Regions from separate parts of the Homo sapiens genome. Here region 1 is linked to region 2. Evidence: fine-mapped expression QTL. A gene starts in region 2. The other region holds a variant in brackets. All regions are shown on one strand. Distances are from middle to middle.

Region 1 (15,472 bases), 840 kb after region 2:
CAGGGAAGGAGGACCCACGGCTCCCTCAGCACCCAGGACCTTGGGCATGTGCTGGAAAATGGGGCCAGGGTCACTTTTAAATATTTTGACTGATTTCTCCAATTATTCTATTGGAGTTAGTAAATACTGAGATTTGTTATTATCTAACCCATTTTTAAACTTTTATTTTGAAAAATTATAGACTCACAGGAAGTTGCAAATAATAGAGTCCTATATTCTCCCCAGATCCTCTAATGGTGACATCCTATGAAGGATCCAAAGGTGTCCTTTTAAGCAACACCCGTACTTGGTGCTATTTCATTTGTATAAAGTGTACAATTCACTGGTTTTAGTATATTCATAGAGTCGGCTGTCATTTTTATACCTTTTTTTATAATTTTTTTTTGAGGCAGGATCTCACTCTGTTACTCAGGCTGGAGTGCATTTATGCAGTCATGGCTCACTGCAGCCTTGACCTTCTGGGCTCACGTGATCCTCCCACCTTACCCTCCTGAGTAACTGGGACAGCTGTTGTATGCCACCACACTTGGCTAACTTCTAACAAAATTTTTTGTGGAGATGAGATTCCACTATTTGCCCAGGCTGGTCTTGAACTCCTGGGCTCAGGTGATCCTCCCATCCTGGCCTCCCACAGTGCTGGGATTACAGACATGAGTCACTCGCCTGGCCCATTTTTAAACAAAATTATAATGGAGAATGAGCTGAGCCTGTAATTGCCCAATGGAATTTTGCCAGCTGCACAGGACAGCCAATTTATGAAGACAGTAGTAGTGCAGTAGAGAAAGAGTTTAATCAGTGCAAGGCTAGCCATGTGGTATACCAGAGCTTATTATGCAAATCAGCCTCTCTGAAAGCTGGGAGCCTAGGGTTTTTCAAGGATAGTTTGGTGGGCATGGGGCTAGGGAATGGGGATAACAATTGGTTGGATCAGAGATAAAAATCATGCGACTGAAGCTGTCTTCTTGCAGTGAGTCAGTTCTTGGGTAGGATCACAAGACCAGATGAGCCAGCTTCTTGGTATGGGCTACTGATCCAGGTGGCTCTAACTGATCCATCAGAATACAGGGTCTGAAAAATACATCAGACACGAATCTTAGTTTTTCAATTATGTTATCTATAGGAGCAACTGGGGAGGTTACAAGTCTTGTGATCTCTGGCTACCTGACTCCTGAGCCATAATTCTAATCTTGGGGTCTTTCGTTAGTTTTACAAAGACAGTTTTGGTTCCTGAATGAAGAGGAGATAGTTTTGGAAGGGCTATTATCATCCTTGCTTCAGTGTTAAACTATAAACTAAATTCCTCCCGAAGTTAGCTTGGCTTTTGCCCAGAAATGAACAAGGACAACTTGGAGGTTAGAGGCAAGTGTGGAGGAAAAGTTAAACATTAAATTTGAACTCAATTGAACATGGACACAAACAATGGCCACCAAGTCCCCAAACGGGTTGTGTGAGCCCCTTGAGGCGTTTATCCAGCGCTGTTTTGGAGAAATCTCTAATTCAATCTATTCCTATACATTAGTTATTGAAAAACAATAGAAAATTGCAAAAGCAAGTTGGCCCTTTTGTGTTCCTTGAGCCCAGTCACAAAGGCCCCTCGTGACTGGGCCTCACGCCAAACAGCTCGTTACAAAAAGAGCTAGGACCCCAGACCACATCGAAGCTTCATGAGACCTCTCCTTGTCTGTGCACAGACGGGTGGCCAACTCTGGAGCCCAGGCTGTTGCTTCCCGGTCTGGCAGTGAATCCTCCATAGCCTGGTGAGTGTAAATATATATATCTATCTTGGCTGGGCACAGTGGCTCACGCCTGTAACCCCAGCACTTTGGGAGGCGGATTGCCTGAGGTCAGGAGTTCGAGACCAGCCTGGCTAACATGGGGAAACCCTGTCTCTACTAAAAATACAAAAATTAGCTGGGTGTGGTGGCGCACGCCTGTAGTCCCAGTTATTCAGGAGGCTGAGGCAGGAGAATAGCTTGAACTCGGGAGATTGAGGTTGCAGTGAGCTGAGATCACACCACTGCACTACAGCCTAGGTGACAGAGTAAGACTCCATCTCCGAAAAAAAAAAAAAATATATATATACACACACATATGGATATATATTTTGCCTTCTCCCTTTCCCACTGCAATTTGCTTATTATATGAATTTGCTTATTATATTATTTGCTTATTATATAATTTGCTTATTATATCTGCATTGCCACGTAAGATGAAGGTTGTTTACACTTAAAGGTATTGTGTGTGTGTCTTTTCTTCTCCCCTCGCACTTTTCCTGCACAGAACAGCAAGATGGAGTTAGCTATGTCAGATTTCCCTTTCTGTCAGAATTTTGCAAAGGTAGTTTCAAGCCTTCAGCCAGTGGGTAGTATCCATTAGTACACACTGGAGTTTCGATCTATTTCCTGGAATGGTGTCTCACCTCTGCTGCCCCATGGCAGGGTTTCTCACTTCTGCTGCCCCATGGCAAGGCTGCCTGATCACTGCAGATCATGCTGACATAGGTGGACAGAACAGGTCCCTCCTGCTGGAGCACTTTGTGCTGTGATTTGCATAGACTGTGTTCTGAGAGTTACTTTTGCTATTTGAAAGATATTGGCCGGGCACAGTGGCTCATGCCTGTAATCCCAGCACTTTGGGAGGTCGAGGCAGGCTGATCACGAGGTCAGGAGCTTGAGACCAGCCTGGCCAATATGCTGAAACCCTGTCTCTACTAAGAATACAAAAAAATGGCCAGGCACGGTGACTCACGCCTGTAATCCCAGCACTTTGGGAGGCAGAGGCGGGTGGATCACGAGGTCAGGAGATCGAGACCATCCTGGCTAACACGGTGAAACCCCGTCTCTACTAAAAATACAAAAAATTAGCCAGGCGTGGTGGCAGGCACCTGTAGTCCCAGCTACTCGGGAGGCTGAGGCAAGAGAATGGCGTGAACCCGGGAGGCAGAGCTTGCAGTGAGCCGAGATCGCACCACTGCACTCCAGCCTGGGCAACAGAGCAAGACTCTGTTTCAAAAAAAAAAAAAAAGTACAAAAAATTAGCGGGGTGTGGTGGCACGCACCTGTAGTCCCAGCTACTTGGGAGGCTGAGGCAGGATAATTGCTTGAACCCAGGAGGTGGAGGTTGCAGTCACCTGAGATTGCGCCACTGCACTCCAGCCGGGGCCACAGAGCAAGATTCTGTCTCGGGAAAAAAAACAAAAAAAAAGAAAGAAAGAAAGACTAGCTATTTGGCACAGAATTCCATCAGATTTGCATGTTTTATCTCATTTATAGCATTGCATACAGCAATAACATTTTAATTTCCATGTAGTTTTAAATATACTTATAACCTATTTATCAAAGCTTTTAAAAAAGAAAGTGTTTCCTGAGTAACTTAATTGCATATAGAAACAGAGGGAGCCCAGCTCAGTCAGTCTGCAGTGTAATGGACAGTTAATTAACATATGTCTTTGAAAACTGAGTGAAAATAAAGAGTTTGAAACTTTCTGAGACTTATTAGATTCCTCTCCTTAGGCAGGTCTTGGATGTCGAATGCTATCCCCAGCAGCCTCAAATCTACAAAGCAGTGATACAATCACGCACCCGCCACCAGCTGAGCAACTGAGAATACCAAGTGTTCACCAGGATACCCAGCACCCAGAGGCATCTCACTTTGCTGGTGGGAGTGCACTTTTTTTCTTTTTTTTTTTTTTGAGACAGAGTCTCGTTCTGTCGCCAGGCGGGAGTGCAGTGGCGCACGATCTTGGCTCACTGCACCGTCCGCCTCCTGGGTTCTGGTGATTCTCCTGCCTCAGCCTCCCGAGTAGCTGGGACTACAGGTGCCCGCCACCACGCCCGGCTAATTTTTTTGTATTTTTAGTAGACACAGGGTTTCACCATGTTAGCCAGGATGGTCTTGATCTCCTGACCTCGTGATCCACCCGCCTCTGCCTCCCAAAGTGCTGGGATTACAGGCGTGAGCCACCGCACCCGGCCGGGAGTGCACTTTGTACAAACACCTGGAGAAACTGTTTGGCAGTGTGTTCTAAAGCTGAACCTACCCAAACCCTATGACCTGGCAACTTCCAGCAAGTGAGTGAATAAGTTTAATTGTGAGTGAATAAGCCAGACACAAAGAGTACATGGGTGTGCATCCTTGTCAACTGATAAAGAAAAGTGGCTCAGAACAGCCTGAGGAATGGGGGGGGGTCTGCAAAATGTATCAGGTCCAGAGGGACAGGAGCATGGGACCTCAGTCACACCCCCGCAGCCATGCCCAGGGGTAACTGTTTAAGGGCTTTGTTTTTTTCTTTCCTTCCCTGTAGTTTCCAGGCTAGCTAATAAATTACCTAAAATATTACCACAAGTTGCACAATGTGAGCCTCACCCATTATCTTCATGCTCCTGGAATTTGTGATACAAAGAACGATGTCTAATAAATCAATAGGTTATTTTAATGAAACAATAAAAATTTTTGGTAAACAACTTAGGAACTGCCCCATTTTTCCTTTAAATACTGACTTGTGGCTGAGTTTGGCGGCTCGCACACGTAATCCCGGTGCTTTGTGAGGCCAAGGATTGGGAGGAGGGCTTGAGCCCAGGAGTTCCAGGCTGCAGTTAGCTGTGATCATACCACTGCCCTCTAGCCTGTGTAACAGAGTGAGACCCTATCTCTATTAAAAAAAAAAAAAAGCCAGGCATAGTGGCATGCACCTACAGTCCTAGCTACTCAAAGACTAGGACTAGAGGCAGAGGTGGGAGGATCACTTGAGCCCAGGAGTTCCAGGCTGCAGTGAGCTATGATCTCACCATAGGATCTCACCATGGGATTACCATGGGATACCTTTTCTTTCTTTCTTTCTTTTCTTTCTTTCTTTCTTTCTTTCTTTCTTTCTTTCTTTCTTTCTTTCTTTCTTTCTTTTCTTTCTTTCTTTCTCTCTTTCTCTCTTTCTCTCTCTCTCTCTCTTTCCCTCTTTCTCTCTCTCTTTCTTTCTTTTTTTTTTTTTACAAAGTTTCATTCTGTCGCCCAGGCTGGAGTGCAGTGGCGCGATCTTGCCTCACTGCAACCTCCGCCCCCCAGGTTCAGGTGATTCTCTTGCCTCAGCCGCCCGAGTAGCTGGGATTATAGGTGCCCGCCACCATGCCTGGCTAATTTTTGTATTTTTAGTAGAGACGGGATTTCACCATGTTGGCCAGGCTGGTCTTGAACTCCTGACCTCAGGTGATCCTCCTGCCTTGGCCTCCCAAAGTGCTGGGATTACAGGCATGAGCCACCGTGCCTGGGGCCTCAGTTTCTTAATTTTGGTTGGCATTTCTGGTGTTGTCTGGAGGATTCAGCTCTATTCCTCCCTTGCAGCCAACTGGCATTCCCTCTCACACTCAGCAATCCGAACCAGTATAAACACTCTGTGTTCCTCTGACTCCAGAGGTTTCCTTGCGTGCAAAGGTTGAGTCCTGAATTCAGACCTCCCTTCCTTTTGGTTGAGGTCTAGATCTTTTTCTAATTTTTAATTTTTATTTTTTGTGGACATATAGGTGTATATATTTATGCAGAACATAAGATGTTTTGACACAGACATGCAACATGTAATAATCTTATCATGGAAAATGGGGTATCCAGTCCCACAAGCATTTATACTTTATGTTACAAACAATTCAATTATACTCTTTTTGTTATTTTAAAATGTAAAATTAAATTATTATTGACTATAGTCCCCCTTTTGTGCTATCAAATACTAGGTCTTATTCATTCTTTCTAACTATTTGTTTTGTATCCATGAACCCACCTCCCCTTCACCCTCCCACTACCCTTCTTAGCCTCTGGTAATCATCCTTCTACTCTCTGTCTCCACGAGTTCAATTGTTTTGACTTTTAGATCCCACAAATAAATGAGAACACGCGATGTTTGTCTTTCTGAGACTGGGTTATTTCATTTATCATAATGACTTCTAGTCCATCCATGTTTTTGAAAATGACAGGATCTCATTCTTTTTTATGGCTGAATAGTACTCCATTGTGTAAGTACCTCTGTTGATGGACATGTAGGTTGCTTCCAAATTTTGGCTGTTGTGAAGAAGTTGAAACTTTATTTGGGCTGTTTTCCAAATCCTTTCTTTCCTGCAAGAGTGAGGGCTTCTGTCTCTGTCTCTGGACAGGAGATTTAGGCAAAAGCTCTGCAGAGAATGTCTGTCTTCTCCTCAGCCTCATGGCAGCGTTTTGGGTTACAGTGTTGGAGTCTAGTGTAACTGCCCAATGGGTTCCTCTTGCCCACTGTTCAGAGGAAGCCAATTTATCAAGACAGGGAATTGCAACAGAGAAAGAAAGAGTTTAAGGCCGGGCACAGTGGCTCATGCCTGTAATCCCAGCACTTTGGGAGGCTGAGGGGGGCAGATCACCTGAGGTCGGGAGTTTGAGACCAGCCTGACCAACATGGAGAAACCCCATCTCTACTAAAAATACAAAATTAGCCAGGCATGGTGGCGCATGCTTGTAATCCCAGCTACTCGGGAGGCTGAGGCAGGAAAATCACTTGAACCCAGGAGACAGAGGTTGTCATGAGCCGAGATCACGCCATTGCACTCCAGCCTGGGCAACAAGAGTGAAACTCTATCTCATAAATAAATAAATAAATAAATAAATAAAAACAGTTTAATACATGTTGTCATCGGCTAAACAGGAAACTAAAGTTTTATTGCTACTCAAATCAGCCTCCCTGAAAATTCAAAGTTTAGGATTTTTTTAAAGATAGTTTGGTGGGCAGGAGGATGGGAAGTGGGAGTGCTGACTGCTTGGGTCGGGGATGAAACCGCCGGGAGTCGAAGCTGTCCTCTTGGGCTGAGTTGGTTCTTGAGTGGGGATCATAAGACGAGATGAGCCAGTTCACCAGTCAGTGTAGCCTCAGCTGACCCATCAGAATGCAGGGTCTGAAAAACACCTCAAACACCAACCTTAGGTTTCATAATAGTAACGTTACCTATGGGGGCAACTGGGGAGGTGAGGAATCTTGTGGCCTCTGGCCGCGTGACTCCTGAGCCAAAATTTCTCATCTGTGGCTCATTTGTTAGTTCTACAAAGGCTGTCTGATCCCCAGGCAAGGAGAGGGTTTGTTTTGGGGAGAGGCTGTTATCTTTGCTTCAACATTAAGCTATAAATCCCTCCCTTCCTCCTTTGGCCTACACTCAGGAATGAACAAGGGCAGCTTGGAGGTGAAAGGTAAGATGGAGCTGGTTAGGTCAGATCTCTTTCACCATCATAATTTCCTCATTGTTATCTTTTTTGCAAAGGTGGTTTCACTAGCACTGGTGATTTCACTTTTTTTGACCTAAAGTTACATAGCATGATTTTAAAATTGTAGCTGTTTCCT[A/G]TTGCTGGTAATTTGGACTCGTCTTTTCAATTGTGACCAATTCCTGCTAGTTTCAAACCAAAGGGTGCATGAGGGTGAGTTCTCTCACCTGGAAGTTAAGAGACACTTGCTCCCTCCAAACCCAGCTGGGTGCTGCAGGGGACTAGAGATTTTATGGGGGTGTTGGGATGTTTGTCCATGATGTGTAGCAGTCTGAGAGGGCCTCCCTGCAGGACAGACCCCAGCTGGAAGGTGCACATAAGGGCTGGTCACCTGGCGCCTTTAGCACTCTACCACTGCAAGGGGACCAGGGATTCTGAGACACATAAGACAGTCAATCACGGTGTCACTGGGACCTTAGGGAGTGACGCTTGCAAGTAGCACACTTCAACCAGAAGCTCTGTTCCAGCCTTGATCACTTTTGAGAAGGAATTTCTAAAAGTATGGGAAAATGGTTGTCAAAAACTGAGCTTTCCTTTAAGGGGCAATCCCCCTTGGAAGCACCAGCCGGGTTTGTGGGTCACCCCTGTAGAGCGCCATGCTGTGGACACCCAGCCAGATGCACCCACATGACTCAGGATGACCCCAAATTTCAATGGCCAAAATCGGGGTCTTTGGAAATTTCTAAGTTAATATGTTTGTGCATACAATTAGCAGGTTTTAGAACCAGACAAATTGAACAGCAGTCCTATTTTAACGGTAGGTAGAAGCTTCTAAGAGAGGTATGGAAAAAATGGCTTCCGTCCAGGAGATAAGCAAAAAATTGTCAGAAACAATTTCACAACTAAAGAAAACCTTGAAAATGTCTTCTCTTTCTCCTTCCACTGCTCTCCTGTTGCCTCCTCCCACACCTCTACATCCACTTTTGTCAGGCCTTCCATGCTCTGGTTACCATCTCTCCTATCCCTCCTCCGCCAGAGGAAGAGGCTCAGCAAATCCCACAGCACTCTTGCAGATCTTCTGGTCAACCCGCTTCTTTCAACGAAGGCAGCTCCAGCAGCTGACTTGCCAGACCCAACCTCTTAAGAAGATGCAGATAAGCCCACATGACCAAAGAGGGGTCTGCTTCTCTTGCAAGAAACAAAGTCACCTTTAAAAAGATTGCAAACAACTTAAATGGCAACAGGAGAGAAAAACCACCCAAGAGAAACAGCTGCTCTGGGGAGCCGAAGGGGGCGTTTCTATTTCTCCTTCCTCTCCCATTAGGAGGAGTGGATCCACTGCTGAGTGAAGAGACTCCTGCTCTCACTGACACCAGAGCTGTCTTCTCTGTTCTCAACCCCATCATATATAACTGTCCCCTTCCTCAGAGGAACGAAACCACTGAAATGGTGGGAGTGCCTAACCCACCCATGACTGTAAGGCCCAAGTTTCAGAATTTCAAATAGGGACTGCATGAGACTATTTTTGCATTGCTGCAAAGAAATGCCTGAGGCCGGGCATGGAGGCTCACGCCTGTAATCCCAGCACTTTGGGAGGCCAAGGCAGATGGATCACCTGAGGTCAGAAGCTCAAGACCAGCCTGGTCAACATGGCGAAACCCCATCTCTACTAAAAATACAAAAATTAGCCAGGTGTGGTGGTGCGTGCTTGTAATCCCAGATACTCGGGAGGCTGAGGCAGGAGAATCGCTTGAACCCAGGAAGTGGAGGTTGCAGTGAGCTGAGATTGTGCCACTGCACTCCAGCCCAGGCAATAGAGCAAAATTCTGTCTCAAAAAAATAAAAAAAAGAAAGAAAATATTTTGAATTCGGAACCAATGGATGATGTGAGCAACTTATGGCAAACCCTGCCTCACCACTTACGGTCACAAGCACCCACATACATTGGGAGAATAATTTCAGCCACTCATCATTTGCAGCATCACTCTTGCCACAGGCTTCTTTATGTGGAGTTCTTCCCTTGCCTTCACCTCACATTACTCTCTCACTGTAGGGATCTTAGCCCTGCTACTGTGCTGCCATTGCCTTCTGATGGGCTGCTCCCTGGCTGTATTGCCGTGACCCAGCAAATTCTCACTCCTAGGCAGAACTCACAGGAGATGCCTACAGAGGATGCTGATGTAATTTGGTTTACTGATGGCCCCTAATTAAATGGCAATTCTGGAAAACACTGCAAGGTGATGCAGCTGTCTCTGTGACTGAAGTCCTAAAAGACAACCCTCTCCCAGAGGCAAAGTTGGCCCACCCAGCAAAACTGATTGCCTTAGCCAGAGCCTGTCGATGCGCAGAAAGCAAGGTTGCTGAAGTTTACACAGAGAGCAGAGGCGCATTTACAACAGCACGTGATTTGGGGATGCTCCGGAAATAACGTAGATTCCTGACTTCTTCCAGACAATCCCTTAAAAATGGCCAACAGGCCTTTGATCTCTTGGAGGTCATTCAGAAACTGAAATCACTGGCCCTTATCAAAATTCCTAGACATCGGAAGCCAGACACTTTTGATGGTAAGAGCAACTGTTTCACAGAGGCTGTGACCAAAACTGTTGCTGAAGTGTCTTTCCTCACCCAAAAACTATACATCTCGAGCTATCCCTGCAAGCATATGCTCCAATTAAAACTTTGCTGAAGGAGGCCAAGCACGGTGGCTCATGCCTGTAATTCCTGCACTTTGGGAGGCCAAGGCGGGCAGATCACTTGAGGCCAGGAGTCCAAGACCAGCCTGGCCAACATGGTGAAACCCTGTCTCTACTAAAAATACAAAAATTAGCCAGGCGTGGTGGTGCATACCTGTAATTCCAGCTACCCGGGAGGCTGAGGCAGGAGAATCGCTTGAACCCAGGAGGCAGAGGTTGCAGTGAGCTGAGATTGCGCGACTGCACTCCAGGCTGGAAGACAGAGTGAGACTCCATCTCAAAAACAAAACAAAACAAAAAAACCTCGCTGAAGAAAGCACAGAGAAAGGCCCTGAAAAAGAGTTAAAGCTTTGGAAAAGTAAGAGGGGGATGTCACGTCCTCTCCTGAAATGGGTTTATGGTACAGTTCAGTGATAGACCAATTCTTCTCTCGCGACTTTGGTTACCCTTTTTACAATATGTTCATGAGTCAACTCACTGGAGTCAGATAAAACGATTTCATGGAAAAACAATTTCATGGAAAAATAATATTCCTGGAAACCATCACCCATGATGGCTCAAAAGGTGTACTCTCGGCTGAACTCAGCGGCTCATGCCTGTAATCCCAGCACTTTGGGAGGCCGAGGTGGGTGGATCACTTGAAGTCAGGAGTTCGAGACCACATTGACCAACATGGTGAAACCCCATCTCTACTAAAAAAATACAAAATTAGCCAGGCATGGTGGCAGGCGCCTGTAATCCCAGCTACTTGGGAGGCTGAGGGCAGGAGAATAGCTTGGACCCGGGAGGGAGAGGTTGCAGTGAGCCAAGATTGCGCCATTGCACTGCAGCCTGGGTGACAGAGCAAGACTCTGTCTCAAAAACAAAACAAAACAAAACAAGACTTGTTGCCTGGGCAACAAGAGCGAAACGCCATCTCAGAAAAAAAAAAAAGTGTACTCCCCCCATCCTGCTTGTCCCAACACAATTCTGAAAAGCACTCCACGTTCCTCAAGGACATTTCCCTGAGACATTTCCCATCAGGACCTTTTGAGATAAAATGGCAACTGAATTTTGTCCAACTGCCTTTATCTCAAGGATACAAGTACATCCTGGTCATGATTTCCATGTTTTCTCATTGGGTTGAAGCATTGCCATGCCGTAGAGCCATGGCCTGAACAGTAGGTAAATTTTCGCTAGAGAAAATTATTCCTTCTTGGGGAGTCCTCCAAGTTGCACAGCAACCGAGGAACCCATTTCACCTGTCAGACAATTCGGTCTATTTGTGACATACGGCGATTTTTCACCACTGCACTATGCATGCCACCCTCAGCCTCTGGCCTGGCGGAACACATAGACGGTGTTAAGAGTGGAGGGTGTCCAGGTCCTCGGTGTCTTGAACAAAGAAGTGGACAAAACGCACAAACAAAGCAAGGAAAGAATGAAGGGCTTTGTCTTACTTTGTTTTTCTTGGGACGGAGTCTTGCTCTGTCGCCCAGGCTGGAGTGCAGTGGTGCAAACTCGGCTCACTGCCAACCTCTGCCGCCCGGGTTCAAGCGATTGTCGTGCGCAGCCTCCCGAGTAGCTGGGACTACAGGCATCCGCCACCACGCCCAGCTAATTTTTGTATTTTTAGTAGAGATGGGGTTTCCCCATGGTGACCAGGCTGGTCTCGAACTCCTGACCTTAGGTGATCCACCTGCCTCGTCTCCCAAAGTGCTAGGATTACAGGCGTGAGCCACTGCACCCAGCCGAATGAAGGGTTTTATTGAAAATGAAAGTACACTCCACAGTGTGGTAGTGGGCCTGAGCATAGGGGCTCAAAGGCCCTGTTACAGAGTTTTTGTGAGTTTATGTGAGTTTAAATACCCTCTACTTGGGGTACACCCTGTGTAAATGAAGAGGATGACGTAAAGTGATGCCATATGGAGAGGATATTTCCTGTTATAGCTGAAGTGTGAATTGGCCTTATGTTCCCTGCCTCCAGACCTTATTTTCCTGCCACAATGGATACAAGAACAAATGGCAAAGTTTACAGAAACTTTGAACCTTGTCTTGCCTAAGGCTCTTCCATTGGTATTGCTTAAATTACCTTCTACCTGTTTGGAAAACCTCAGCTTTCTCCCTTTGAAATAACTGCAGGAAGCCCCATGTGCCTGGAGGAAGGAGCCCAGTGAACCAGCTCACCCTAAAGGTGACATTCTTCATGATTGCAAGGCCTTATACAGCTTCTCACTAAAAACTCTAAATTAAAGATTCTTTGAAGAGTCAGCACCCAGGAGACGAAGACATCAGAGGTCATGGCCTGCAACTAGGAGGTTTTGATTCTTGGAAAAGACATCAAATCAAGGACTCTTTCTATCAAATAAGGGACTCCCTCCAGCTCACCAGAAGGGCCCATGTTGGGGATTGTTTACCAATTCCTTGTGCAGCTAAACTCAAAGGCACTGACTCATGCATTCACATTTCTCATTTTAAAAAGGCAGTCCTCGCAGCCATAAAAAAGAATGAGGTCATGTCCTTTGCAGGGACATGGATGAAGCTGGAAGGCATCATTCTCAGCAAACTAACACAGGAACAGAAAACCAAACACCGCATGTTCTCACTCATAAGTGGGAGCTGAACAATAAGAACACAAGGACACAGGGAGGGGAAAAACACACACCGTGGCCCTGTTAGGGGGTAAAGGGCAAGGGGAGGGAGAGCACTAGGACAAATACCTAATACATGTGGGGCTTAAAACCTAGATGCTGGGTTGATAGGTGCAGCAAACCACCACGGCACATGTATACTATGCGACAAACCTGCACGTTCTGCATGTGTATCCCAGAACTTAACGTAAAATTAAAAAAAATAAATAAAAAGGCAGTCCTGCATGCATGGGTACCTTCCACCTGGAGATCCCCAGCTGAAGCTGATCTGCAGCCAGTTACCTTATTCTTCAGACCAGGACGAGAAGTGGGAAATTAATTAGAAATCACTCAAAAAGTTAAATGGGCTGGGTGCGGTGGCTCACACCTGTAATCCCAGCACTTTGGGAGGCCAAGGCTGGTGGATCCCTTGAGGTCAGGTGTTCGAGACCAGCCTGGCCAAAATGGCGAAACACCATCTCTACTAAAAATAAAAAAAAATAAAAAATAAAAAAAATTTGCCAAGTATGGTGGTACACATCTGTAATCCCAGCAACTTGGGAGGCTGAGGCAGGAGTATCACTAGAGCCCAGGAGGCAGAGGTTGCAGTGAGCTGAGATCACGCCAGTGCACTCCAGCCTGAGCAACAGAGTGATGCTCTGTCTCAAAAAAAAAAAAAAAAAAAAAAGGCAAAATGGCTGCAAGATGGTAGAAAAACAGACCCCTCACGTGATTTACATGATTGATTACCTTTAGGAATAGGAATGCTTTCCAGATTGGGATTTTATTTGCATCATATTTTTTATTCTTCACTTGATTAGGCTTTGTATTTCTAGATGTCTAAAGTCAAGAATAAAAACGAAAATCATGATAGCTAGAACACTTAGGAATGATCCGCGACACCACAGCTTCTCTCCAAGCAGGCGGCCTGGGATCCCGCTGCTCTGTCCCGTTGTGCTGCCAATATCTTCTGCCTGGAGACCTCACCGAGTTCATGAGCCAGAGCACCTCTCCTCTTACCCCCCCCCCCCCCATGGGAATGAGCCTTCCCAGTGATGCTGGGCAAATTTACACTTAAAATGTTGATCAGCTAGGTGCAGGGGCTCACGCCTATAATCCCAGCATGTTGGGAGGCCAAGGAGGGTGGATCACTTGAGGCCAGGAGTTAGTTCAAGGCCAGCCTAGGCAACATGTTGAAACCCTATCTCTACCAAAAATACAAAAATTAGTCAGGCATGGTGGCATATGCCTGTAGTCCTAGCTGCTCCGGAGGCTGAGACATTAGAATTGCTTGCACCCTGGAAACAGGTTGCAGTGAGCAAAGATCACACCACTGCACTCAAGCCTGGGCAACAGAGTGAGACTCTGTCTCAATAAATAAATAAAATGTTAGATGCAGTTAGGTTTCCTCTTCAAACAGCTTATCCAGTTTCCTCATTCTCTATCCTACAATTCCAAATACCCCCTTGCCTGTGCTGCACCGCAGCTTGTCTGAATATGCCTAGGCATGCCTGAACTTGCTACAACCCCAGTCCACATTTCTTTCCTTATTAGGGAATAGGTTACCCTCCTAGTCCCTCCGTAAATGACCCCCCTTCTCTCCCTTCTCACCTCCCTTACGTGCCTACCTTATCTAAGAAAGTTTAAATGTTTAGCCAACTGGGACTAGTTTAGACTGTGTGGTCCAACCCTAGCCAATAGGGGAAAGACACAGAAGCAGAAGCTGTGTTAGACATAATAAAAACCCCTGCTTTCCTTTGTTCTGTGTGCTTTTGCCATTACTTCACATGTGAGATGCACATACCCTTCTGCCGAAGTAAATTTGCCTTGCTGAGAGATCCTTAGTCTCAGTGCTGGTTCTTCTTTGAGGCACCGAGCATTTGTTTCCAAAAAATAAATAAAATAAAATAAAATATTGATCATCAATACTTTCAGAGAGCAAGATCTTGATCCAAAGGAGGAAATAAGAAAGAGAAGTGGCTCAGAGCAGCCTGAGGAATGTGAGACCTGCAAACTTATCAGGCCCAGAGAACAATGATGCCAGCAGCTGTGCCTAGGGTTCACTGTTCAAAGGCTTTTTCTTTCCTTCCCTGTAGTTTCCAGGCTAGCTGACTGTCTAGACTTCCTAAAAGTTACCACAAATTGTACAATGTGATCCTTATCCATGTCAATGAAAAGAGTCAAATTCTGTGAAATATGTTACAGGGTTTATTCTAAGCCAAATATGAGTGACCATGGCCCATAGCATAGCCCTCAGGAGGTCCTGAGAACATGTGCACAAGGTGGTCGGGGCACATATAGCTTGGTTTTATATATTTTTAGGGAGACATTAGACATCAATCAAATATATTTAAGAGGGACTGGCACAGTGGCTCATGCCTGTAATCCCAGCACTTTGGGAGGCTGAGGCGGGTGGATCACAAGGTCAGGAGTTCAAGATCAGCCTGACCAACATAGTGAAACCATCTCTACTAAAAATACAAAAAATTAGCTGGGCGTGGTGGTGGGTGCCTGTAATTTCAGCTACTCGGGAGGCTGAGGCAGGAGAATTGCTTGAACCCAGGAGGCGGAGGTTACAGTGAGCCGAGATCATGCCATTGCACTCCAGCCTGGGTGACATTGTGAGACCCCATCTCAAAAAAAAAAAAAAAATATATATATATATATATGAAATATATGGGTTTGGAGGTTCCCTCTCTTGGCTTTGGAGCCCCCCATCCCTCTGTTTCTGTACAGGGGAGCTTCTTCCTTCTCCCATCCTTCTTGCCCCTTCTTGCCTATTAAACTCTCCACTCCTTAAAACGAAAAAAAAAAAAAAGAAAGAAAGAAATACAACGGTTTGGTTCAGAAAACTGGGACAACTCTCAAAGCGGGAGCTTCCAGGCTGTAGGTAAGTTTAAACATTTTCTGGTTTACAATTGGTTGAGTTTATCTGAAGACCTGGGATTAACGGAAAGGAAATGTTCA
Region 2 (15,472 bases):
TCTGGTTGCGGCTGGCCGGGCTGCGGGACAGAAACAGCAGGAGGCGGAACAGCAGGCTCCCGCTCTGCACCTCCTCCTGCTCTAAATGCCCTGACCCGCTCTGTTCCCCTCTGGCAGAGCTGGGGCCCCTACGCCAAGGGCTCCGCACATAGCAAGTTCTCAGCATCCCAGGTACGGGGCCCGGCCCCCCTTCCACCTGGAGCTCCCCACAGAGGCAAGGACGTAGGTCAGGATGGGCCACTCCCAGCAGTCTTCTTCCCACACCAGCTCGAAGAGGGGGGCTGGGACCAGCCATCCCCAGGCAGGAGAGGATGCTTGCAGGAGGCTCGCCTGTGGCGGCTGTGGTGGTCAGCCACCACGAGGGCAACTCCCAGCTCACCCCCAGCTGTGGGGGACATCAGGGAGCTGGGCCCAGAGCTGAGAAATGGAAGGACCTCTATGCTGGGGGCAAGGCCACCTGGGCCAGCTGGCTCCTGATATACAGGATCCCTAGACGGGGCGCCCTCATCACACTTGCCGAAGCAGCCTGGCTGGGGGTGTGGGAGGAGGGTGGGGAGGGAAGGTGGGACCAGGCACGGGGCACCCTCAGAGGTTCAGGCTCTGGTGGAAGGCGACTGCTGGTCAGTCCTAAAGCCCTGTAAGCTGAGGGGATGTTAGAGACAGGGGTGAGCAAATGGCTCACGTGGGCCTGGCCAGCAGTGCCCAGCCTCAGGATCGGTGCCCCTCAGCAGCCATGCCCTGTCCGGGACTGGGAGGAGCCCACACTCACGGTAGCACCAGGGTGTCCTCAGAGAGGCCGCGGGCTCGGGCGTGCTCCTCGTCATGGAACATGGGCAGTGTCCTCAGGATGGCAGCCAGGCCCGTCCCGGGCACAAGCACTGCAGGCAGAGTCCAGGTGGATGCTGGGGTCAGGGGCTGACAGCCATGGCCGCCTCCTCCCTCACTGAGGGGCAGGACCAGAGCTGGTGGGATGGGGCTCCGGTCTTATGACAGTCAGAGGCTGGGAGGAAGGGCTATGGCTGCCCCTGGGACCCCTCAGAGGGCAGGCGGCTGACCCGCGTTTGGAAGCCATGGCTTCCTGCCTTGGAGCCCGTGGTGATTCCTCATTTCGCACCTGGACGGCCCCAGGAGCTCTGCCCAGGTCTCTAGCTGCTCCACCCAGGCCCTGCCCCTGCTCCCACCTCCTTCTCCAAATGCTTAGTCCACACTCCCCACCAAGGCCCACGGGGCTCAGCCTTTGCCTCACTGTGGATATACTGTGGGCTCTGCCTGGAAGTCCTGCCTCGTCCCCACTTCTCACCCAGTAGGTGCCTCAAGGCCCAGATTGGGACACCACCCCCAGGAAGCCCTCCCAGATGCCCAGGCTGTAGTGCTATTCCCACATTCTCCCTCACTGGCCCTCGAGCTCCCAAAGGGCACGGACTGTGTGACTCCCTCAGGGTCCAGCCCAGGTCCCCTTCCCCAGCTCCCCGACCTGGAGGGCCTAGCACACAGCAAGTGCACAGACGGGCTGGTCCCACCCCCAGCAACTCTGCCACCTTCCTGCAGCCTCTGCATCTCAGTTCTGTCCCTTAAATGGAGACCTGGCCACACCACTCATTCCCTGGGGCCAGCTGCTCAGTATAAAGCCCTGACCCCTCAGCCACCCCTCCAGGGCCTCCAGCAAGTCCCAAAGCTCCCTCCCGGCCCTCCCTTCCCTCCCCCAGCAGCAATGCCCCATCCTATCCTGCAGATCCCAGCCATGGTCACCTGCTTTCCCCCCTCGCCCTCTGCAGCTGTACCCATCGCCTATCACTGGCTCACAAATTAACCCCAAACTTGGCAAGTTAAAGCAGCCCCCTCTAATATCCCTCCAGCCGCACCCCTCCCTGACATCGCCCTCCACTGCTGGGCTCACCCTGGTCTCCACATCTCTGCCTGTTAAGTCACCAGCCCCGGGACACCAGCCCTTGGCCCCGTGAAGGTTTATGGCACCCGTGATCCTCCTCTGGCCTTACACAAAGGCCTGTGGAGCCCCGGGGACGTTTGCCAGAGGACTGGAAGATGCAGGCCGGCTGAGGTGCAGCCGCTGACAAAATCACCCCGCCAGTAGGGCTCAGCCAGCAGACGGGGGAGGCGGAGCCCGCACATGTTTGTCTGCCCGTCTGCCCTCCGAGGCGCCCAGAGCACAGCCAGGACACGGGCTGCCGGAACAAAGGTCTGGATTCACCAGCCTTGTGAACCCCAAGGACCCAACCTCAGACCCTGGGCATCCAGGGGGCTCAGGGTCCACCCCACACCGGTGTCCAAGTGTCCCTGTCTCATGTATGGTGGGTTGAAAAAGCATCCTAGATGTCCGCATCCCAGGGCCGGGCGCAGTGCCTCAGGCCTGGAATCCCAGCACTTTGGGTGGCCGAGGTGTCAGATTGCTTGAGGTCTGGAATTCAAGACCAGCCTGGTCAACATGGTGAAACCCTGTCTTTACGAATAATACAAAAATTAACTGGTCATGATGGCAGGTGCCTGTAATCCCAGCTACTTGGGAGGTTGAGGCGGGAGAATCACTTGAATCTGGCAGGCGGAGGTTGCAGTGAGCCAAGATCGCACCACTGCACTCCAGCCTGGGTGACAGAATGAGACTGTCTCAAAAAATTAAATAAATACATAAAAATTAAAAAGATGTCCACATCCCAATCCCCGGTACCTGTGGGTGTCACTTCATATGGAAGTGTCTTTACGGATGTGATATTAGGGGTCATGGGGCGGGAGGTGGCCCTGGACAATCCAGGTGGGCCCTAAACGCCCTCTCGTGTTTCCTCACAGGTGGAAGGCCACAGGGCACGGGGAGGGGAAGGCCATATGACGACAGGGCAGAGCGGCCCTTGGAGATGCTGGCCTGGATGACTGGAGTGATGCGGCCACAAGCCAAGGATTGCAGCAGCCACCAGACACTGGAGGTGGCAGGGGTGGCTCCTCCCGCAGAGCGTCAGGACGGAGCGGTGCCCTGCAGCACCTTGGCTCAGCCCGGGGAAACCCCTCTCAGGCCTCGGCCTCCAGAACCCAGAACGAACTTCTGTGATGTTCAGCCGCCCGGCACAGTGGCCACAGGAAACAAAAAGTCACTCTCCACTCATCACGGCGGGTGAAGCTGGGGTGCCTTATGGGAAAGGTGGAGGGGGCATATCTGGTTTGGTTTTGTGGGACATGCTCACGTTGTGCAAGGTCACCTCCAGCTGCTGCTGACTCATGTGGGGGAACAGCTTCCAGAAACTTCCAGGAATGCTGCAGAGTGGTAGGCGTGGATATGGGCCCTGCTGTCCCTGCTGGGGGCATGTGTGGGCACCACAGGCGAAATCAGCCAAAGACAAGACTAAACTCTCTTGGTGTCCTCTTCTCTCAAGCAAAACACTCCATATGTGCTTTTGCAGTGGTTTTTATGGCTCACACCTGTAATCCCAGAATTTTGGGAGGCTGATGCAGGAAGATCATTTGAGCCCAGGAGTTCAAAACCAGCCTGGCCAATTTCTTTCTTTTTTCTTTTTCTTCTCCTTTCTTCCTTTTTTTTTTTTTTTTTTTTTTTTTTTGAGGCAGAGTCTCACTCTGTTGCCCAGGCTGGAGTACAGTGATGCCATCTCGACTCACTGCAACCTCCACCCACCCGGCTCAAGCAATTCTCCTGCCTTAGCCTCCCGAGTAGCCGGGATTACAGGCATGCACCACCACACCTAGCTAATTTTTTATTTTTAGTAGAGACGGGGTTTCGCCATGTTAGCAAGGCAAGTGAACCACCCGCCTTGGCCTCCCAAAGTGTTGGAATTACAGGCCTGAGCCACCATGTCTGGCCAAACGTTCCTTTTTCAAACCTATACTGTCGCCAGTAAAGTTTTCTTACCAACCTGCGAGTGGACCACTTTCCAACTCTGGGGCTCCAGCACTCACCCCGCAGTCAATGTGTTGTACGTCAGCAGCCATTCTAACAGGTATGTAGTGGCATCAGTTTTTTTTGTTTGTTTGAGACAGGGTCTCACTCTGTCACTCAGGCTGGAGTGCAGTGGCGAGATCTCGGCTCACTGCAACCTCCACCTCCTGGGTTCAAGCGATTCTCATGCCTCAGCCTCCCCAGTAGCTGGGACCACAGGCATCTGCCACCACATCTGGCTAATTTTTTTTTTGTATTTTTAGTAGAGACAGGGTTTCACCATGTTGTCCATGGCTGGTCTTGAACTCCCGATCTCAAGTGATCCACCCACCTCAGCCTCCCAAAGTGCTGGGATTACAGGTGTGAGCCACCGCGCCCAGTCAGCTGGGGCAATTTCTTTTGTTATTTTAAATAAACACCAGCTTTCAGCCGGGCACGGTGGCGGGCGCCTGTAGTCCCAGCTACTCGGGAGGCTGAGGCAGGAGAATGGTGTGAACCCGGGAGGCAGAGCTTGCAGTGAGCTGAGATCGCGCCACTGCACTCCAGTCTGGGCGACAGAGTGAGACTCCATCTCAAAAAAATAAAAATAAATAAAAAATAAACAAACACCGGCTTTCACACCTAACTATGATTTTGTAACTTGTATTACTTTTCTCAATGAGGGCCCTCCAAAAGCTTCAAGGGCTGCAGAATCTGAACCCTCCAGCCCTGCCTGGAACCTCTTCCTTGGCCCATCCAGGCAGGTGCCTGAGTTTGCTGGTGACTTGGAAACTCCTCAGCCCCCTGCCAAACACCTGGAAAGGAGGCTTTGCTCTCTAAGACAATGGGCCCCACTGTCACCAGCGAAGTCAAGCTTAGGCTTAGAAACTTGTGAACGTGTAGCACCCATTCAGGAAGGAGGTCCAGGCCAAGGGCACAGACGCCACTGCAGTAACCAAGAAGCCATGGGCATCACTCCACTGACACTCTCGACTGCTGGGACCCGTGTGGTCACCGGGCAGGGAGCTTCTCTCAGCTGCCTGGCCCCAGATCTCTGCCCTCCCTGCTGTGCCTGCAAGGAGCCGGGCTCAGGAGGGACTTTGGGACAGGCCGGCAAGCAGGTGGGGTTCCCAGTTTGACATAGGAAGTCTTCAAGTTTCTCGGGTGTACAGAACGTGGCCACTGATGCCAGCTTGGGCTTGGGGTTATCAGCCGTGTTTGGATTCGCTATGCCCCTTGACCTGTGATAGCTTCAATGAACTCAGAGAAGGGATGGGTCAAGGGGCGTCCCCACTGGCATCACCTCTGCCCTCCCTGAACTCTGGCAGGGCTCCAGGTGTGCAGCGTTCCACCCACAGGTCACTGTTTACCAGCAGGCGCAGAAGCCGTTCCAACAGCGACAATCAAACAGCTTTACTAGGGCAAAGCCACCACTCCCCTCTCACCTCCCCAGGGAAGGCCAGAGCCCACGTCAGCAGTGTGGAGGGAGTAAATCATTGACGCCTGACAGTCTGGCTGCTCCAACCTCACGAGGGGTTGGGGGAGCCCATTCCTGCAGGTTCCTGGAAGTGGATGCCCCACATGGGTCAGCTAGCAACAGCTGGGGGTGACCTCGCAGCCACACGAGGACGGGCTGCTGAGCAGAAGCCAGGACCCCAGTGCACAGAGCACCAAGGGATCTCAGAAGGCTGCTTCAGGTCTGAAGACTGACGCCCCACACCCAATTTCCAGCCTCCAAGTCTCTTGTTTCCCACCCAGACACAGGACCTCACAGCCTCTTTCAGAAATGCGGTGCACGCGTGTGAGTGCACCCACAGGCTGCTGCGGCGAGCACGCGGGGGCCAAGCGAGACGGGTGTGTGGTGGGGTTACAGAGTCCACCTGCCCCTGCAGCTCGGACCACTCAAGAACTACATGTTGAGCTCAACGAAACTGCAGTTGGCCACACTCCAAGCCTGAAGGGGTAGCGTCAGGGGCGTCGGACGAGGCCCCACACAGAGTCCCCAGGTCCTGTCCCCACTCGGGGGCAGCTCTGGCAGGCTCCGGCCCTGCTGGGCTCCCCACTCCTCTTTCCTGCACCTTGCAGGGCTGCTCCTGGCCTGGCCCTCTCCCATCTTTGTCCTGCAGGCCTTGTGTCCTCAGAGAAGCCCTCCCTGGGCTGCCTCCAAACTCCACACCATCCACACACCCAGCTCAGACCCTGTTATCAGCCCACAGCCCCTACAGGGCCCTGGCAGATCCTGCCCCTGGGACTAGCTCCTTAATGCATGCCATCCCTTCAATGGCAGCCTCTCTCTCTAGCTTGTGAGGGCCAAGCACAGGAATTGTGTCACTCTGTGTCAGTGGAGTGTCACACAGGGGCGTTTGCCAAGCTGTGAATGACTTTGTTCCATTCACAGGCAGAAGGAGAAGTGCAGAGGAGGCTCCCGGCAGCCTGGACAGCCACGTTCTTGGGGACCTGAGTCCCTCGTGGACGAGCCCCACTAGGCTTTGTCTCCTGGGCTGGGCGCAGAGTGGGCCTCCAGAGGGGTCTGCACCGGCCACAGTGTGGTGGGTGGAATCTGAGAGCACCGACAGAGTGCTGGTGGCTTCTGAGCAGCCACTTCAGCAGAAAGGGGTGGCCAGGAGGGGCAGCTGCCAGGGAACAGGCCGTGAGAGGGGGTGGGGATAGGAGGGGCGGGGAAGTGGTTGGCAGATGGGCAAGGGACAAGAGAATGTTCTGGTCATGCCAGGGGAGGCCCTGGGCTCTGGCAGAGCCGGAGAGGGTCCCAGCCGTCCCAGGAGAGAGAGCTGCGCTGGACACAAGCAGGAGTGTGGGGAGGGGCCAGGGCAGCAGGGAGTGGGAGGAGGAGGAGTGGAAAGGGCTCCTGAGGGAAAGGCAGGCAGTGGCCCATGGAGGGTCGCAAACAGGTTCAAGACGGGGCGAGGGGGCTGTCCTGGCCCCAAGGGAGGCCCCACATCACAGCAGAGCCCATCTGGGGGCCCCAGGCAGTGTCCTGCCCTCCTGGGGAACACCCAGGCATTCTGGAGGCTCCAGTGCAACCGTCCTCTCCCCATCCCGGTGGCCTCAGGCTCCCCAAGCTACCATCCTTCCTGTGCCCAGCCCAGGCTGGCAGCACTGTGCTGGAGTACCACAGAGCTCGGTGCCTGTCCCAGGCCCTGACCCCACCCAGGCAGAACTCAGTCCAGACGCAATCGCTGGTCTCTGGTCAACCAGGTCCACACAGGGGCAGAGGAAGCAGGGCTCTGAGGCCACCTCGGGTGTGAACACGTGCGTCCCCGCAGATGCCAGGTAGCCCCAGTATCGTGCCAACCACTGCTGCCTGACCAGGACCCCAGGGGACGGGGACACCCTCCTGGGTGTCGCAGTTGAGGGGTCCTCGCAGCCTCCTAAGCCTTCTCCAGGGCAGCCTCCTAAGCCTTCTGTGTCCAGAGCAGGAGCGGCAGGCCAATGCCCTGGGGCCCTCCCGCCCCATATTCCAGGACTTCAGGACGCTGGCCCTCAGGGGCGCAGCGGCAGCACAGGGGGCCTGGCCCCAGGGTCGCAGGGCGCTCCCGGGAGCACCGCGACGGCGAGAACCCACCGCAATCTCCTCTGTCCAGGTCGGGGCTCCATGCGTGGGGACGCCGGTGGCCGGAACCGGAGGAGAGCGACCTCAGCCCGCACCCCCCATCCAGGCGCGGATTTGACTCCCCAACGACCCCCGTGGGTGCAGGAGGGTCCGAGGCTCCCGGTCGCGGCCAGGTCCAGAGGCCTACCCCGCCCAGGGTCTCGGACTCACCGCCGAGCTCACTCCGCATGCCAATGGTGCCGCCGGTGTAGACGGCCAGCAGCCTCCGCTCGGGCCCCACCGCGCGCGCCATGCCGGACCGGGGACCACGGGAGTGGACGGGGGTGTGCAGCGGGGACGCAGGGCCTGCGGGACTCAGGGACTGCGCGGAGGAGGCCCGGGGCGCCGGGGGCAGCCTGGGAGGGCGGGGCCGGCGGGGGCACCCACGGGGAGGGGGCGGGAGTGGAGTCTGCCCGGGAGGGTGGGAGGCCCCGCGGAGGCGGGCGGGGGCAGGACCTGGGGGCGGGGTGGGTCCCGGGGACTGTCCAGGGTCGGAGAGAGAGGCGGGGCCTGGCGGGGTGGGGGCGGGGCCTGGCGGGGTGCGGGGCGGGGCCTGGCGGGGTGCGGGGCGGGGCCTGGCGGGGTGCGGGGCGGGGCCTGGCGGGGTGCGGGGCGGGGCGCGGCCTTGGAAACGTGTAGGAAGAGGTGAGGTCTGTGAGGGCGGCAGGGGGAGCTCCTGCCTGGGCAGGAGATTGGCTGGGGCCTGCTTGGGGCTGGGGAGCGCCTGTCCAGGGACTAGGGGGCAGCCAGAAAGGCAGCGACAGGGGTGGGGCGGGTCCTGAGCCATCCTGCGGCCATTGGCCCTCCGTGGCGGCCCTGGGTGTTTGAGTAGCTGTGACATGTGGTGCCTGGCAGACCGTAGTGCCCGAGGCCCTCCACGACCTGAGCACAGAGGGGGCTCCGTGTCCTGTCAAGCAGCCTCCACAGCCCCGGGGCTCCAAGGCCGGCATTGCTGCCCAGGCCCTGCTGTCCCTCCTTTGGATGGCCAGAGGCAGGCAGAGCTGGACCAGCCCCTCCACATGTGCCCATTCACACACCATCCAAGAGAAGAGCCCGAGGGGCCCCCAAGGGCTGGAGCGGGACAGAGCAGGAGTATGGCCTTCTTGGACAAACACCGCCATTTTAGGTTCCCTTTGATTAAAAAGCTGCCTAAATCCAGCCCAAAACACATCAGCCCAATAGCTAATGTCAGCACGACCGTAAACCACAAATAACATCTCCAATCAGAAACATGCCAACCTCGAGATAACCTCCCCTCCGACCAGAGACATTCCAAGCCCGCAATAAACTTTCCCTCACATAGAAACATTCCGAGCCTGCGATAAGCTCCCCACTTCCTAAACCCTTAAAGATCCTTAGTCTGTAGGAGAGATGGCTCCTGACCAAAATCGGCCAGAAGTCCCTTTCAGGTTTATTCTCCAAAATAAACCTGCCTTTGTTGAGCCGCTTTTCATGTTTCTTTCCTCTTTCTTTAACTCCTACAGAGCCCACCCTCCTTCACTCCCATGAGAGCCCAGGAGGGCAGGGCACTGGCGGGTGCAGGGTCCCAGGAGGGTCCCAAGCTGCAGGCTTGCTCCCAGGTGGACAGAAGATCCGCGGCCTCCTCGTCTCCTGGCACCTTGACTGCCTGGGGCACTGATGCACTTTGGTGGGAAACTGTGTGTTGCCCCCAGAAGGCACCAGCATTTGACACTGATTCCATAATAAAAATTATTATTATTCTGTTGCCTGGAGGGCAGTAGCAAGATCTTGGCTCACTGCAACCTGTGCCTCCCAGGTTCAAGCAATTGTCTTGTCTCAGCCCCCTCCCCGAATAGCTGGGATTGCAGGTGCACACCACACCAGGCTAATTTTTTTTTCTTTTTTTTTTTTTGTATTTTTAGTAGAGACGGGGTTTCACCATGTTGGCCAGGCTGGTCTTGAACTCCTGACCTCAGGTACTCCACCCACCTCAGCCTCCCTAAGTGTTGGGATTACAGGTGTGAGCCGCCATGCCCAGCCCCATATAATTATTTTGATAACAACAGTGCAATAGTGCAAAAGTAATCTTGTCTGCAGAGAAGCAAAGGCATTCTGCCCAGCAAAGGTCTGTGTTAGTTTTCTGGGACTGCAGTAACAGAACGAGTGATTTACAGTGCAAGGAGGTCTACCTCTCACAGTTCTTGGGGGTGGAAGTCTAAGGTCAGGGTGTCACAGGTTGGTGTCTCCTGGGCAAGCAGATGGTGCCTTCTTGCTGTGCCTCACAGGGTCTTTCCTCTGAGCAGTCACGCATCCCTGATGTATCTCCAGATGTCCAGACTTTCTCTTTTTATAGACATACCAGTCAGATTGAATTTGGGGCCTCATTTTAATTCAACCATCTCTTTAAAGTCTACCTCCAAATACAGTTGCATTCTAAGACACTGGGGTGTGGGGGACTTGAACATTAGAATCTAAGGGAGACAATCCAGCCCATCACAGCCCCCTGAAAATCCAGTTTCAGGTCCATTTGCACAATCATGTCAATATTCCTCATCTGTAAGTGTCTGTTTCAGGACTTCTCTTCTGAGCTGGTCCTCACAGCTGCCTGGGCTAGGGAAGCTCTTCGACGCATGCTCACCCTGCATCCCTGTGAGCACCATGTCTGGCCCTTTCGGGAATCATCCTTTAACAACCCGCCTGCTACCATAAATTCTAGGAAAACTTGTCTGGGGCCAGGGCAGCCTTCACTGGCAATAATCCTCACTGGAGTGGCTTTTCTCCCAGGTGCAAGGAGCCCCATCAGGTTTCTGCTGCTGAAACCTTGCAAGCACCAGGACTCGACGCTGCAGCTTCACCTGAAGACACTGCCGGTCTTTGGACGAATCCACTGTCCTGCTTTGCTTTTGTCTGCGTCCACCTACATCTACAGCGTCCTTGGACGGAATCTTTCATGCAATATATGTTGAAGGCTGGCTCTGTGCCAGATGCCTCTCTAGGCACAGGGGACGCAGCCCGTCCTTCTGAGTGTACCAGCCAGGGTGGGGGCCATAGTAGACAAAAATACCAGCGTCTGGCAGTGACAGTGCCTGGAGGAACACTCAGGGAACACGGAGACAGGCAGTGCTGTTTACAACAGGGTGGCCAGGGAAGGCCTCTCCGAAGGGTTGGCATTGGAGCAAAGCCAGCATGCCAGGCGGGACAGGCTGCCAGGAAGGGACAGGTGCTGAGGCCCGAGGCAGGAGTGAGCATGGCCCCACAGTGCCCAGGTCAGTGGGGCGAGAGCACTCAGAGGGAGGGGATGCCCGCTGAGTGACTGTGGTGCCACGCAAGGACTTTCAATTTAACCCCAAAGGTGAACACCAGCCCCACCGAGGGTTGGGCTGGTTTGTTTTAATCTCTGGCTGCTATGTGCGGAGACTGAGACAAGAATGGGTTCAGGAGGGCTTTGGGCAGGGTGGGGAGGAGCTGGGGATGGGGAAGTGCAAGGTGGGAGTGCTGGGAGCACAAGCTGGAGCTTGAGGGGTACGCGCCGAAGAGAAAGGGTGACTCTCCTGTCTTTGGCCAGAGCAGCCACGGAGTGGGGATGTCCTTACTGAGAAAGCAGGGGCCAGAGTGGGGCCTGGGGCCAGGCAGAGGGAAGCAAGGTGTGTTGGACACATCCTGCTTGGGGGCCACCTGGGCAGGTCCAAGGAGACTCAGCTGCGCGTCCTGCAGTCAGTGGCACAGGGACCACAAAGTCGTGACAGCAGCGAGGTGTCAGCAGAGACAAAGGCCCTAGTCTGAGCCTCAGCATTCTGGCCTCAGAGGCCAGGAGGAGGAGAGAACCCAGGACCGCGAGGGGAGAAGGCCAGTAAGTGATCTTCACGTGAAGTCCCGGGGCTTGGTGAGGGGAGGCCAGAAGCTGGCCACGGTGGAGCAAGGTGGAGGGTGCTGCGGCCTCACCCCGGGTGAGTGGCGTGGAGGGGCAAACGTCTGTCCCCCTGGAGGGACACTTGGCCATCGCTGTGCTGCCTGCTGCTGAAGGAAGGGCTCCCCACCAGGGGCTGGGTTAGGAAGGTGTGGGGTGTGCCAGTCGCTCCCTGGCTCCTGGCCCCCTGGCTCCCCAGGCAGTGTAGTGCCAGGAGGTGAGTCCAGGGAACCTAGGCAGCCCCAGCCAAGTCCCCACGTTCTGCCTGCCCCTCCTTTATTTTTGATTGTTCAGAAAAGTGTTTCCTTGGCCACCCAGGGGTCTCCTCGTCCCCTCTTCTCTCTCACTTCCCATCTACACCCTCCCCAGTGGCCCTCCTTCCACACAGCGCAGGAGAGTTCTGGGTGGGACCCTCCCAGAGTGTTTATAAAATCCACTCCGGCCCCAGCCCCACCCAGAGCAGAGCGGAGGGACATCTGCCATTTGACAGTGCCCGGTGGTCCGGACCACCCTACAGCCCTGCCTACCTTTTCTGCAGCCCTGCCTGTCTTTTCTGCATCTCTTCTTCTAGAGCAGGGTGCTCAGAGCGTGGCCTCCGCTCCAGCAGCAGCACCTGGAACCTGTGGAAATGCAAAGCCCAGGCCCCTGACAACAACTCCGCGTGGGGCCCAGGAGTCCAGACTCTGACCCCGCTCTGGGTGATGCTGATACAGGTGCACATTTGGGAACCACTGGTCTCGAACAAAGGCCGGCAAACCAGGGCTCGACGGCCAGGCCTGGCGCACCTGTGTGTGTAAACACAGTTTTCTTGGAACAGCCACACCCACTCATTTATGTATTGTGTTGGGGAGGTGCCAGGTGGCAGGCCCCCGTGGCCATGCCATGGCTGGCCTTCCAGAGGCAGAGGGGCAGGAGGAAGTGCCTGGGTGCCGAGCAAGGGGCCGCAGGAATGCCACACGTACTCCTGTCTGTCCTCAGCCACTAACTGGGGCAGGCCTTGGTCCAGGGTGGTCACCTCCACCCTGAGGCTGGGGGGCCTCAGGTCACAAGCTCTGCTCTCCCAGTCCCCAGCTCCACACAAACAAGCCAAGACTCCTGGAGGCAAGGCGCAGTGCTGAGGCCACTGGCGAGGTACACGGTGCCCCCCTGGGTTCTGGCCGTGGCAGCAGGCCTGGGCAGGGAGGCCCTGGGAGCCCACCTTCTTCAGCCGCTCAGGCGTCGTCTGTTGCCCTACACTGTGAGTCTTCATGGTACTGCCTATGGGCCAGGCGCTGTTGCAGCCACCCTGCAAATCCAGGCACATTTCACCCCTGTGACCACACCGAGGCAGAGGATAACTGTCCTATTTGGCGAGTGAGGGGCCTGAGGCACACAGTGCGTCCCACGGCAGGCAAGCGCTGGCACTGGGCTTGTGGACACCACAGGAGTTCCTGACACTGTGTTGAAGCAGGCTGGCCCGGCCTGGGCCAGTGTGCTGGAGGGGAACAGAGGTGTGTGGGGACCCCAGAGAGAGGAAGCCTAAGAAACTTTCCGACAGGGAAAGGAGTCTTGGGGCCTGGGCAGGGAACTGCAGAGAGCTGGGGCATCTTCGGCAGAAGGTTGGACCCCAGGGGAGTGTGGGAAAGCACTGAAGGGTCACTCTATGAGCTATGATCGCACCACTGCACTCCAGCCTGGTAATAGACCGAGCCCGTCTCATAAATAAATAAGGGCAAAGGACTTGAACAGACATTTCTCCAAAGATGATATACACTTGGCCAAGAAGCATACGAGAAATGCTCAACATCACTAATTATCAGGGACATGCAAAGCAAAGCCACGTGGTGTCCCCACTCACCCTTTGGGATGGCTACTATCAAAAAAAAAAAAAAAACAGAAAATAAGTGTTTGCAAGGATGTGGAGACATTGGAATTCTGGTGCACTGCTGGTGGGGTTATAAAATGATACAGCCACTATGGGAAACAGTAGAGGCTTCTCAATAAATTAAAATTAGAACTACCATAGCGTCCAGCAATTCCATTTGAGAACAGAGACCAAAGATTGGAAAGGAAGGTCTCAAAAAGATGTTTTCACACCCACGTTCATAACAGTACTGCTCACAAAAGCCAAGAGGTGGAAGCAACCTGTGTGCATCCACAGATGAGTGGATAAGCAAAGTGGTATCTCCATAGAAAAGGAAGGAAATCGGCCAGGCGTGGTGGCTCACGCCTGTAATACCAGCACTTTGGGAGGCCGAGGCAGGCGGATCACGAGGTCAGGAGATCGAGACCATCCTGGCTAACAAAGTGAAACCCCATCTCTACTAAAAATACAAAAAAATTAGCCGGGCGTGGTGACGGACGCCTGTAGTCCTAGCTACTCAGGAGGCTGAGGCAGGAGAATGTCGTGAACCCGGGAGGCAGAGCTTGCAGTGAGCAGCGATCGCACCACTGCACTCCAGCCTGGGCGACAGAGCAAGACTCTGTCTCAGGAAAAAAAAAAAAAAAGAAAAGGAAGGAAATCCTGCCACAGGCTACAACATAGGGTATGCTAAGTGAAATAAGCCAATCACAGAAAGACAAATACAGATGTTTGCAATGGGATTATGTTCTAATAAACCCATCATAAGTCAAAAAATCATTTAGTTCAAACTTCGTAAATCAGAGACCTTCTATCAATAGGATCCCACTTATATGGGGTACTAGATGCTGAGGTCTGAATGTATCCCCCAAAACTCACTTGTTGGAAACTTAATCCCCAATGCAACTGTGTTTGGAAGTGGGGCCTTTTAGGAGATGTTTAGGTCATGAGGGTGTGCCCTCGTGAATGAGTTAATGCCACTATAAAACGACCTAACTGAGGGAGTTTGGTCTTTTTTACCCGTCTGCCACATGAGAACACAGACTTCAAGGTGCCATCTTGCAAGCAGAAGCCCAGATCCTCACCAGACGCCAGATGCCAGCTCCTTGATCTTGGACTTCCCAGCCTCCAGAACTGTGAGAAATAAATCTGTCGTTTATAAATTACCCAGTCTCAGGTATTCTGTTACAGCAGCACAAAACAGACTGACTCTATGAGGAGCCAAACATATAGAAACAGAAGTGGAATGATGGTTGCCAGGGCTGAGAAGAGGAGGGACTGAGAAGTTGCTTCATAGGTGCAGAGTTTCAGATGTGCAAGATGAAAAAGTTCCAGGATCCCTTTCACAACAATGTGAATATACTTAACGGTGCACGACTGAACGGTGCACTTAAAAATAGTTAAGATGGTACATTTTTATGTTTTCTACCACAATAAAAAAAGTGAGCAGGCAAGGATAGACTAGAAGAAAATGTTCACAAGACATATACCAGACAAAGGATTTGCATTCTCACAAAAGAACTCCTACAACTCAATAAAAATACAAACAACTCCCCCCAAACGGGGCACAAGATTTAAGCAGATACTTCACAAAGGAAGATATGGGCAAATTTTAACACAAAAAATTAGGGGACCAGGTGTGGTGGCTCATGCCTGTAAACTTAGCACCAGGAGGCCAAGGCAGAGAAAATTTTTCTCTACAAAAATTAAAAACTAGCTGGGTGTGGTGGTGCACACCTGTGGTCCCAGCTACTCAGGGGGCTGAGGCAGGAGGATCGCTTGAACCCAGGAAGTGAATCACACCACTGGACTCCAGCCTGGGCGACAGAGCAAGACCCTGTCGCTAAAAAAATAAAAATAAATGTTCAGTTAAAGGGAATTAACTACTGAGAAGGGCAGAAACATGTCTAAAGAACATAGGAAGAGAAGATGTGCAGCAGCCTCTAGGATCAAGGACAACACCCATGGGAGGAAGAAACTTGGAACAGCCCTGCTCCCACACCCAGAATGAGACTCAGACCTCTTCGGAGAGAGAGTGGCTGAGGCCACGGAATGGCCAGAGGTGCAAAGGCTGGGCCTGGAGGCAGGAAACTGCTTATTGCTGAGAGGTGCTGGGAGGCCACCTGCTGGCAAGCAGCACCAGAAACAGGAAGAGTAGTTCCGCTCCTCCTGCAGTGTCCCTCCAGTGCCCTCTGCCGGCAACGCCTAACATTGCATCAGCTGGGAAAGAAGAAATGTTTACAGTCTAGCTCCAGGACGCCAGACGAAAGAAGGATG

The links.
Region 1: its variant is fine-mapped to the expression of ASPG in ovary (GTEx, PIP 0.92).

Annotation. Positions count from the first base shown.
Region 1 is chr14:103,242,776-103,258,247 of GRCh38, reverse strand. No RefSeq gene overlaps it. Among named protein-coding and RNA genes, the nearest start is that of LINC00605, 61 kb to the right of the region's middle. RefSeq lists an enhancer at 13,490-14,689. The variant A/G (reference allele first, on the strand shown) is at 7,343.
Region 2 is chr14:104,078,039-104,093,510 of GRCh38, reverse strand. It overlaps ASPG (asparaginase), which reads right to left and starts at 7,811. Exons shown (of 16, transcript NM_001080464.3): 1 at 7,659-7,811; 2 at 770-878; 3 at 1-20. The coding sequence starts at 7,740. LOC124903408 reads right to left here and starts at 12,658. Exons shown (of 2, transcript XM_047432050.1): 1 at 11,883-12,658; 2 at 9,816-10,651. The coding sequence starts at 12,658. The coding sequence ends at 10,576.